Regions from separate parts of the Homo sapiens genome. Here region 1 is linked to region 2. Evidence: fine-mapped QTL for protein levels in blood plasma. Region 2 holds a variant in brackets. A gene starts in the other region. All regions are shown on their forward strands.

Evidence for each region. A credible set is the group of variants that fine-mapping cannot tell apart. PIP is the chance, under the fine-mapping model, that this variant and not a neighbour inherited with it causes the effect. The UK Biobank Pharma Proteomics Project read protein levels with antibody pairs (Olink). The fine-mapping took linkage between variants from a reference panel, not from the people measured, so its PIPs are less certain.
Region 1: HRC starts here. The variant in region 2 is the best candidate, but not a certain one, in a credible set for the plasma level of the HRC protein (UK Biobank, PIP 0.88).

The regions. Positions count from the first base shown.
Region 1 is chr19:49,154,528-49,159,854 of GRCh38, forward strand. HRC (histidine rich calcium binding protein) reads right to left here and starts at 869. Exons shown (of 6, transcript NM_002152.3): 1 at 1-869. The coding sequence starts at 710. TRPM4 (transient receptor potential cation channel subfamily M member 4) reads left to right here and starts at 3,265. Exons shown (of 25, transcript NM_017636.4): 1 at 3,265-3,363; 2 at 3,665-3,732. The coding sequence starts at 3,340. RefSeq lists an enhancer at 2,999-3,620 and a silencer at 4,304-4,490.
Region 2 is chr3:52,694,991-52,700,303 of GRCh38, forward strand. It overlaps GLT8D1 (glycosyltransferase 8 domain containing 1), which reads right to left. Exons shown (of 10, transcript NM_018446.4): 3 at 5,272-5,313; 4 at 2,731-2,944; 5 at 1,552-1,669; 6 at 1,244-1,328; 7 at 938-1,050; 8 at 431-597; 9 at 200-312; 10 at 1-45. Among named protein-coding and RNA genes, the nearest start is that of SNORD69, 4.9 kb to the left of the region's middle. The variant T/C (reference allele first, on the strand shown) is at 1,178.

The sequences.
Region 1 (5,327 bases), not on the chromosome of region 2:
CTGGGGCCATGATGATGGTGTCCATCTGAGACATCCTCATCCTCTTCACTCCCATGGCCTCGGTGCCTGTGGGCCTGGTGTCCATACTCAGTGGAGGCCTCCTCTTCCTCCTCCTCCTCCTCCTCCTCCTCTTCTCCTTCATCATCTTCCCCATCATGGCCTCGGTGTCCATGCCTGAGGATATGATGGTGATGCTCACTGGACACAACTTCATCCTCATCCTCGTCTTGATGGCTGTGGCTCCTGTGGCTGGGGAGGTGGTGCCTGTGCTCAGCTGAGTCTTCCGTGTCTTCACTCCCGTGGCCTCTGTGCCCACGGGCCTGCCCACCATGCTCTGCAAAGACCTCCTCACCTGAGACACCCTCATCTCCGACTTTGTGGTCTTGGGACCTGTGGCCTGGGAGTAGGTGCCCATATTCCTTGGAGACATCTTCATCCTCCTTTTCACGGTCTGGGTGGCTCCAGAAATGATGCCCATTCTCTGTGGAAACATCCTTGTTCTCATCTGGATGGTCTCTAGGGCTGTGGAGGTGGTGGCGAAGCTCTGCTGATGCCTCCTCGGAGAGCCCGGCGACTCCAGTGCTGTTGTTCCGGTTTCTGAAGCCTAGCCCATCCCCTCTGAGCTGCTGGGTCATGGCCGGGGGGAGGAGCAGGCTGGCCACCCCAGCCCAGAGGACAGAAGCGTGCAGCCATGGCCTATGGTGGCCCATGGGGACGGACAGGCAGCACTGGCTCCAGCTGCCTCTGCGGCAATGTGGACAAACGTTGGGGTCTTTGTCCCTTTGGGGTTGGTCTCTTTTTTTCTCTGTGTCTCTCCTTTGTCCTTTCGGTCTCTGTCCACCTTCCTCTGGTCCTTGCTGCCTGGCTCTGGACACCCCTCTGAGGCTGTCTCCGGAGCCCCCTGACCCCCCTCTGGGGCCCTCCCTCCCCATTCCCCAGCCAATAGGGTCCTTCCCCTCCCCTCTCTCCAGCTAAATTTACTCTCAGCCCTGAGTTATTCTGGGTCAGTCCCCGCCTGCCTGCCTCCTGCTCCTCCTCCTCCCAGCTGGGGAGGGGACCAGTGAGGGGTCTCTCCCTGGCCAGGAGACGGTGGCCAAGGGACTTGACTTTGAACTACCAACAAGCTCACGTTTGGCAGCTGCAAAGACAAAGGCTAGACTTTTAGCAGGTTTTTGGGGGAGCCTGGGGCACCTGGGGGAGGCAGAAGAGACTTATCAGAGGGGAGAGACTCCTGGGACGGAAGGACTGGGGGTTCGATTGCGGGGTGTTTCCAGCTGGAATGATACGTGCTGGTGAGAGAGTGATGTCAGTATTGAGGCCCTAGAATGGGGGGAAAGGAACATGGCCCCCAACACACGTGCCCATGACCTCCTGTCCCTGGAACTCAGATCTGGGGGCAGGGACTGGGCTAGGCCAGGGCTATAAATACAGCTGGGAGGGGTAGGGGGACTCAGGTTACGGAGGCCACAGCTGTCCCCATCACAGAGGGCTGGCAGGAGACAAGTGGCCTTGCCCGTCTCTGTGTGTCAGTATTTCCTACTCCTCACCCTTCATGACTGCCCCCACTAGGGTCTCCTTTCCTGTTCACGGGTCCTCCTCTCTCTTCAATTCTGTCATCTGCTCTCTCAGGGTCCCTGTCCCTCCTCCATGGGATTGCCTCTCCCTCTCACTCTGGGCTTCTGTCCCACTCTTATCTTAGTGTCAGTCCTCCCCCAAGTCTGTGTCCCTCTCTCTCCCCTAAATCTCTGGCCCCTCCTTTCTGAGTTCCTGCCCTTCCCCCAATTCTTTGGTTTTTGCATCCCCCTCTGCCCCTTGCCTCAGTCAAGGTGTCTCCTCCCCATCTCTGGCATCCACCTCTCTGGGTCTCTGTCCCCACTCTCTCTCAGAGTCTCTGTCCCCCTCTGTCTCAGAGTCTCTGTCCACCTCTCCCTGGGTCTCTGTCCCCCTCTCTCTGGGTCTCTGTCCCCCTCTCCCTGGGTCTCTGTCCCCCTCTCTCTGTGGATCTCTGTCCCCCTCTCTCTGGGTCTCTGTTCCCCTCTCTCTGTGGGTCTCTGTCCCCCTCTCTCTGTGGATCTCTGTCCCCCTCTCTCTGGGTCTCTGTTCCCCTCTCTCTGTGGGTCTCTGTCCCCCTCTCTCTCTGGGTCTCTGTTCCCCTCTCTCTGGGTCTCTGTCCCCCTCTCTCAGGGTCTCTGTCCCCCTCTGTCTCAGAGTCTCTGTCCCCCTCTCTCTGGGTCTCTGTCCCCTCTCCCTGGGTCTCTGTACCCCTCTCCGTGGGTCTCTGTCCCCTCTCCCTGGGTCTCTGTCCCCCCATCCCTGGGTCTCTGTCCCCCCCTCTCTGGGTCTCTGTCCCCCTCTCTCTGGGTCTCTGTCCTCCTCTCTCTCTGGGTCTCTGTTCCCCTCTCTCTGGGTCTCTGTCCCCCTCTCTCTGGGTCTCTGTCCCCGTCTCTCTGGGTCTCTGTCCCCCTCTCTCTGGGTCTCTGTCCTCCTCTCTCTCTGGGTCTCTGTTCCCCTCTCTCTGGGTCTCTGTCCCCCTCTCTCTGGGTCTCTGTCCCCGTCTCTCTGGGTCTCTGTCCCCCTCTCTCTGGGTCTCTGTCCCCCTCTCTCTGGGTCTCTGTCCCCTCTCCCTGGGTCTCTGTCCCCCTCTCCGTGGGTCTCTGTCCCCTCTCCCTGGGTCTCTGTCCCCCCCTCCCTGGGTCTCTGTCCCCCCCTCTCTGGGTCTCTGTCCCCCCCTCTCTGGGTCTCTGTCCTCCTCTCCCTGGGTCTCTGTCCCCCTCTCTCTGTGGGTCTCTGTCCCACTCTCTCTGGGTCTCTGTCCCACTCTCTCTGGGTCTCTGTCCCCTCTCCCTGGGTCTCTGTCCCCCTCTCTCTGTGGGTCTCTGTCCCCCTCTCTCTCTGTCTATCCCTGGGTCCCTGCTGCCCCACCTTCTGATTCTCTGTCCCCTAAGTCTTTGTCTCCCCCTCTTTGGGTTAAATTGTCCCCTCCCTGTCTGGCATCCTCCTTTCTGAGTCTGTTCCCTCTCCGCCACTGGCCCCCAACTCCTTCTGTTCCCATCTCGCGCTTGCCCTTGGAGTCTCCCCTGTGTGTCTCTCTCCCCCCGGCCCGGACCTCTGCACCCCCCAGGTCGCTGTCCCTCTGTCCCCTTATCGCGGCCTGGGACCCGCCCTCTCCCCGCCTCCCGCTTTGGCGTCTCCAAGACTCCCCGCCCCCCAGACCTCGCCCCGCCCCAGGCTAGGCTGGAAAGTGGAGGATCCGGTTTGCTCTGGGCGGGTCTGGAAGCAGAGCCGGCGGAGGGAGCGCCGGGGCCCTGGGCTGCAGGAGGTTGCGGCGGCCGCGGCAGCATGGTGGTGCCGGAGAAGGAGCAGGTGAGCGCCGGACCAGGGTCTGCGGGAGCGCGGAGCTGGGGACCTCGCCTCCAGGCTCCCAGAGAGGAGGGCGCTGGACACCCAGATTCCTGGGTCAGACGGAGGAGGGGGATGGGAGGGTCCAGGTTCCAGGGTCCAGGGCATGGGGGTCGAGACTCCTGAGTCTGGAGCGGGAGGGCGCTGGGGGCCCGGACTCCTGTGTCCGTGGGGAGCGCACGGGGTGGGTGGCTCTGTGTCCCATAGGACAGAACTGGGTGCCCTCTCACCCCACTTCCACCCCTACATTTGTTCCTGTCCCCAGAGCTGGATCCCCAAGATCTTCAAGAAGAAGACCTGCACGACGTTCATAGTTGACTCCACAGATCCGGGGTGAGGAGTTCGCCCCTGGACTGACCCCAGAGGGTCCGCGGCCCGCTGACCCCGCCCGCGGATGGTCACGCCCCAGCCCTGCTCCTTCCCCATTCCTGGACTCGGGGACCTTCCCAAGGGCGTTCCTTGCCGACGCTCTCCCTCTAGGAGCGTTTGGGTCTGTGTAGACACCCCTCATTCCCCATTCGCCATTCTCCCGCTCAGGGTCAGTGTAGACGCTCCAGGGCTCGGTTCTGCTTCTTTCCTCCCCGATGTCTCTTCTATGTGCTTCTGTCTCTTCGTGTCACTTTCTGTGTCTCTGTCTTTCCCTTTTGGGTATTTCTGTTTCATTCATTCATTCATTCATTCATTCATTCATTCATCCATCCATGCAAGAAACCCTCACTCAGCGCTCCCAAGGTCCCTTTAGCCTAATTCAACGGCCCTGCCAGGGTTCCAATTTCCCCTGGGACACGTGCTGTGTGGCTTCGGGCAAATCATTTCACCTCTCTGGGTCCCGTTTCTCATCTGGGCATCAAAAGAGGCTTGATCTCCTGGGGTTATTATGAGAATTAAACAAGTTAATGCTTGTGATATTCCTGGCACAGCGCCCAGCACAGGACGCTGGGAAATATCTGCAGCTCCCACTGGGAGGTGGCAATTATTACCGCGGGCGGGCCCTGTCTTGGTGGCCGGGGACACCAATTGAGCTAGATAGGGTGTGTGCGTCCGCGAGGAGCTCCCGCCCTTCAGTGACGGCCTCTCAAGCGGATCCAGGCTTTCTAGTTTTTTTTTTTTTTTTTTTTTTTTTGAGACGGTGTCTCGCTCTGTCCCCCAGGCTGGAGTGCAGTGGCGCGATCTCGGCTCACTGCAAGCTCCGCCTCCCGGGTTCACGCCGTTTTCCTGCCTCAGCCTCCCGAGTAGCTGGGACTACAGGCGCCCGCCACCACGCCCGGCTAATTTTTTGTATTTTAGTAGAGACGGGGTTTCACCGTGTTGGCCAGGATGATCTCGATCTCCTGACCTTGTGATCCGCCCGCCTCAGCCCCTCAAAGTACTGGGATTACAGGCGTGAGCCATCGCGCTGGGCCAATTTTTTGTATTTTTTTTTTAGTAGAGACGGGGTTGCACCGTGTTAGCCAGATGGTCTCGATCTCCTGACCTCATGATCCGCCGGCCTCGGCCTCCCAAAGCGCTAGGATTACAGGTGTGAGCCACCGCACCTGGCCCAGGCTTTCTAGTTTTTTGTTTTTTGTTTTTTTGAGACAGAGTCTGGCTCTGTCGCCCAGGCTGGAGTGCAGTGTTGCGATATCAGCTCACTGCAACATCCACCTCCTGGGTTCAAGCAGTTCTCATGCCTCAGCCTCCCTAGTAGCTGGGATTACAGGTGCCTACCACCATGCCCAGCTAATTTTTTGTATTTTAGTAGAGACGGGATTTCACCCTGTTGCCCAGGTTGGTCTTGAACTCTTGATCTCAGGCAATGCACCTGCCTTGGCTTTCCAAAGTACTGGGATTACAGGTGTGAGCCACCGCGCCCAGCCCTCTAGTTGTTTTTCAAGACAGTTTTTGGGGTGCGGGAAGTATCCACATTCCTACTTCAGTGTGTATTTTGT
Region 2 (5,313 bases):
CAGCCTTTACAAACTGAGGTGAATATCGTTTTCCAGCACTGGAACCTTACATTTGAGACAAAAATAGCCACATCGTTGCGCCATGTGAAATTGTGCAGAAAACTTACTTAAGGGAAACAAAGAATATACCCCATCCCTGAGGATAGTTCTTTAGATACCAATTCTTTACTAGCTTATGCCACTGGTTAATTCTACTTACCAAGGTGGCGGACATTCCACATAGGATCGATGGTAGAGTGCTGTTGATAAAATACGATAAGCAGAGGAGGTGTTGTGATGCTACCAGCCAGGGTTCTGCTATACAGTCCCTCTCTTGGTGGGACAGAAAACAAATGTTTGTTAGTGAAAAGTACTGACTAACTCCTGTTAGTCAAGACTCTAGGAATTGAAATACAACAGTTTTTCACAGCTAGGCCAGTTACATACTTACTCTACATTGAGTTTCATCCATTTTTCCAGTTGGTTAGTTATATTCTGTCGTTTCCATTCCGTCAGGTTTGCAACAAAAACTCCAGGATTAAATGAGCAAGTGCTGGCTTTCATGGAAAGCTTACGAATTCTTTCCTTTTTATAGTCAAGATAGCCAATGTAATTGTACTAAAAACACAAATAGGATATATGTACTTACTGCTTCAAACAAAATAGATACAATTTTATAGCCAGTAGAGAGAAGAGCTGTTAAACTGACTTCTTCAGATTAGAAAATAAATATTTGAAATTCCAAGTTAGAATAGGAACCTAGATGTTGACATAATAAACCAGATGTTCAAGAACAATTAGGCTGTCAAGTCCATGAAGAAGTCTACAGAAAAGCAGGCTTGAGTTTTGGGATGAAATGATTGGGGAGTGTAAATTGCAGCAAAAGAGTTCCCTGAATTTGCAACCTCTTCCCATTAAACAATATTGTAGGAAGAGGGGTGTTTGGTAAGCAATTTACCTGGTTTCCTGCTCCACGGATGACAACTTTAGTAGAGGCTGAATCACAATCTTCTGAAAATGCAGCTGCATGTCCTGGCTTCAGTGCTGTATTGTAAAGGGCAAGAATATCACCTGAAATAGACAAGATGTTAAGATTTACATTTCCGTTGCCTTGAGAGTTCCCTGTTACTCCCACTTCTCCCTATGGTGACCTTTTATAGAAGACCATAAATAAACCACTACAGCCCACTGTAGCCCA[T/C]TGTTTTATTTAGCAATTGTACCCAATCTGGGTGGAGAACAGCACTCATGGTGACATTTTTGATACCTTGCACAATTACATCATCATCCATGTATATGGCCTTCTTTGCGCTGGGAACCAGAATTGGCAAGTAGAACCTTGCAAAGGTTAACTGGAAAAGGAAAGAATAATTGGCATAGGATACCGCACTAGCTGTGCTTTTATTTACACAGAAACTCCTAGGATGCTTTCAGTACCCATTCAGGAGAAGAAAGGACTCTTAGAACCACCCAGGCTTGGTCCCCAGGAAACTACTTGCACTATACCCACAGATACCCAGGTATTCCATTATTTCCTAATACTGCCAAGTGCAAAGAAGGATGCATGGAACTCACAGGTTTCATGGATTCCCCCTGGTCAGGATCCTCCTTTACTTTTCCTTCCAAAAGTTTAGGGTCAAAATTGACAATTTTGTATCTGATGCTTTTCAGGGAATCACTGTTGAGCCAGGACCTGATGAAGATAAAACACTACATTTTAGTTTCAAATAATGTCTCCAAACCAATGAGGGAATAATGCAAAAGAAACCCTATGGACCAAATAGGTGTTTTCAAGCTCCTTTTATCTCTGAGCTTTGGTTTCCTCGTCTGAAGTGAGGGTAATTCCCACCAAAGTCCCTCCCTGAATTAAGATTGTATGGTAATTATCTTCTAACACTAAAACTACTCTAGAAAAACTATAGAATTAAGAACATTTCATCACCACCTGGACTATCCAACTCTTAACTGTGGTGACCCTAATTCCACCACTCAAGTCTGAGGCACTACCTGTAAGAAAAAACTGTTTGCTAAAGGAGTACTGCACATTTTTTCTAGGTCAGTTTCAAATCAGTGTTTTGTGGCTACTTAGTGTTATTTCTGTAGTCTATTTTTATACAGCTTCTGTTTCTGTATTTTAAATGCGTTCAGAATTTACAGCTTTAAAAACTAAATATGAACCATGCAGAGGGCCACAAGGACCAAAATGTTTCAGAAATTTGACAACTGGTTAATTTGTTAGACCAACAAATTTGGAGTAAGTTTTATAAGTCTTATTCATTTTCAAAATGGATTAGACTATCCAAGTTTCCCCAGATCACTCTGGGCCAGGATTTGGATCAGGATCTGTGATCAGCATCACAACACTACCTTGCCATTGTTGCTAAGTCCCTTCCCACTCTAGACCAGAACTGCTCCGAGCATGTCCATGAAATAAGGAACTTGTGACTTGTAAATCAACATTTACTGCTCCCTTCACTGAGAAAGTATTATTATCAAAACACCATCAGGTGGGGTTAACAGTTCAGAGTGACAGCTGACTTACTTCCTGGCATGAGCTCCTTGTATCACTTCTCCTATTATGGGGATATGCTCATAATACAGTCCTAAAAAAAATATGTCATTTGTACAGTTTATCACTGGTACAATTTCAATTGTATAAAACAACATACAAACCACAGAAAAACAGATCCTGGATTGGCAGCTGGCCTGCTCTAAATCATCCTCTAGAAGCAGAATCACATAAGCAGAGCTCACCGGAGATGGTCTGCTGTATTGTTGAGAGTAACAATGTAGAAAATCACATTGGAGCGAGTGTTGTGCTGAATGCTGTTTATAGCTGCAATGGCCCCCCCAAGCCTGTCTTCAGATGCAGCGATGACCACAGGAATCTCCTCTTGTCTCCCATCTACTGCATGTCGGAGAGCATTTGGGACAAAGTCTATAGGTTGAGGCCCTACAATTCCTGAATCTGAAAACACAAGGAAGGCACTGTGATTACAATCTCATGGGCTTTTGATATAGAGTCCAAGACATGGAAAAAGGGAAGGTAAGGATTATGGTACTGATCTACCTCATTCTCCCCCATTAAACTGAAGCATATAGCCCTGAAACTTTCCCTGTATGTAAATAAGCTTTTGGAAAAGTGGAGGAAGCATTTTTTAAAATACACTGACAGCACTTTGGTACACTACTGGTAGGAAAATAACAGAACCTGTTAGAATGTATTATGGCAATTTGTATCAAGAGTTTCCTAAGGACAAAATCTGAAATATAATCAAAAGAAAGAATTTTATTTAAATTGTGAAAACTTAGCAGCAAACTAAATCAATGTTTTTCAAGTCACGAATCACAAGTAGGCATGAAACCAATTGAGTGAGTCACAATCAATTTATACAGAAAAAGTTTCTGGATTGCAATAGAAAACTGAAATAGAGGCCGGGCATGGTAGGTCACGCCTGTAATCCCAGCACTTTGGGAGGCTGAGGCGGGTGGATCACTTGAGGTCAGGAATTTGAGACCAGCCTGACCAACATGGTGAAACCTCATCTCTACTAAAAATACAAAATGAGCCAGGTGTAGTGGTGAACACCTGTAATCCCAGCTACTTGGGAGACTGAGGCAGGAGAATCGCTTGAACTCGGGAGGTGGAGGTTGCAGTGAGCCAAGACTGTACCACTGCACTCCAGCCTGGGCAGCAATAGGAAAACTCCATCTCAAAAAAAAAAAAAGAAAACTGAATTAGAATACCAAAGAAAACATAGTGTATCACACAAGGAAACTGCAATTACTGTCCTGTATGCATTCTTGCCTTTCATTTTTTTTTTTTTATTCCTCATTGAACCCTGGTATTTACTATGTGCCAGGCAATATCTAGGCACTGGGGTTACAGCCATGAATAAAACATCCCTAACTTTCTGAGGATAGACAGCCAATAAGCAAATACACATGTATGTACATGTGCTACATGTAATGTATTTCCTATTGTAGGGCTGCCATCAAAAAGTCTGAAAGCTGTTGTAGCAAAAGATGTTATCCTGTGGAAACAAATTAATAGACATTAAGATTATGTATGAAGAGTTTCTACCATCACAGTGACATGATATACAGAAAAACATGTCATGTACAGTTTATATATAGTACAATCTCAACTGTACAGAAAAAAAGATGTGTAGGAAAAAACTGGAAGGTACTAAGCCAAAATTGTAAATGAAATCATTCAACCAACTAATATTTATTGAACAGCTAGTATCAGCCATCATCCATAGGCACAGAAGATAAAACAGTACACAAATTGCCTTCATGGAGCTTAAATACTGTTGTCTCTTTTTTTTTTTCTTGAGACGAAGACTCACTCTGTCACCAGGCTGGAGTGCAGTGGCGTGATCTTGGCTCACTGCAACCTCCGCCTCCTGGGTTCAAGCGATTCTCCTGCCTCAGCCTCCCGAGTAGCTGGGACTACAGGCGCATACCACCACGCCCAGCTAATTTTTGTATTTTTAGTAGAGACGGGGTTTCACCATGTTGGCCAGGCTGGTCTTGTACTCCTGACCTCGTGATCTGCCCACCTCAGCCTCCCAAAGTGCTGAGATGGTCTCGATCTCTGACCTTGTGAGACGCCCACCTTGGCCTACCAAAGTTTTGGGATTACAGGCATGAGCCACTGCTCCCGGCCGCTGTTCTCTTTTTTATAAACTTTCCTACCAGGAACATGCATTACTTTATATGTATCATACATATATACACGTGATAAAACATGCTATCAGAGCACTCCGTGAAAGTCAGGGGAAAGCTATTACAGTCTCTCACTCTGGTCAGCTATGGTGGGTGGCAATCCAAAAATGATTTTTGACAAACACTCAAGCCTCAAACATTTCTCAGTACCAAGGGAGAACAGTATGAACGACTAATTCAATATACTGTGCGATATATTATACAACACAGTGATTTTTAAAAATCACTTGACAAACTTTTATTGCTACAGTCCCACTGATGCAGCTGCACAGCTGAAGGAAAGTAACTAGACTGACACTCTAGTGACTAGAGCAGGCATCAAACACCAAGGACACTGGTATGCCCTCACTTTCTGAAGCCCTGTCCTGCTGACATGTGAACAGATGGCAGCCCTCAGAGGCTCTCCTAAGGCCTCTGATTTGGTGAAAAGGAATATTCTGTCAGATCAAACCCTTAACAAACAACTGCTAGTACTACCGGAAGAAGAACAACTTAGGATGTGTGACACAGAGAATACCAGGTCCGCAACAGATTCTAAGGCATTATTAATAAGTGCTCGCATACCTGTAACCTCATTCCTTAACAAACTGCTCAAGCTGAGGAAGT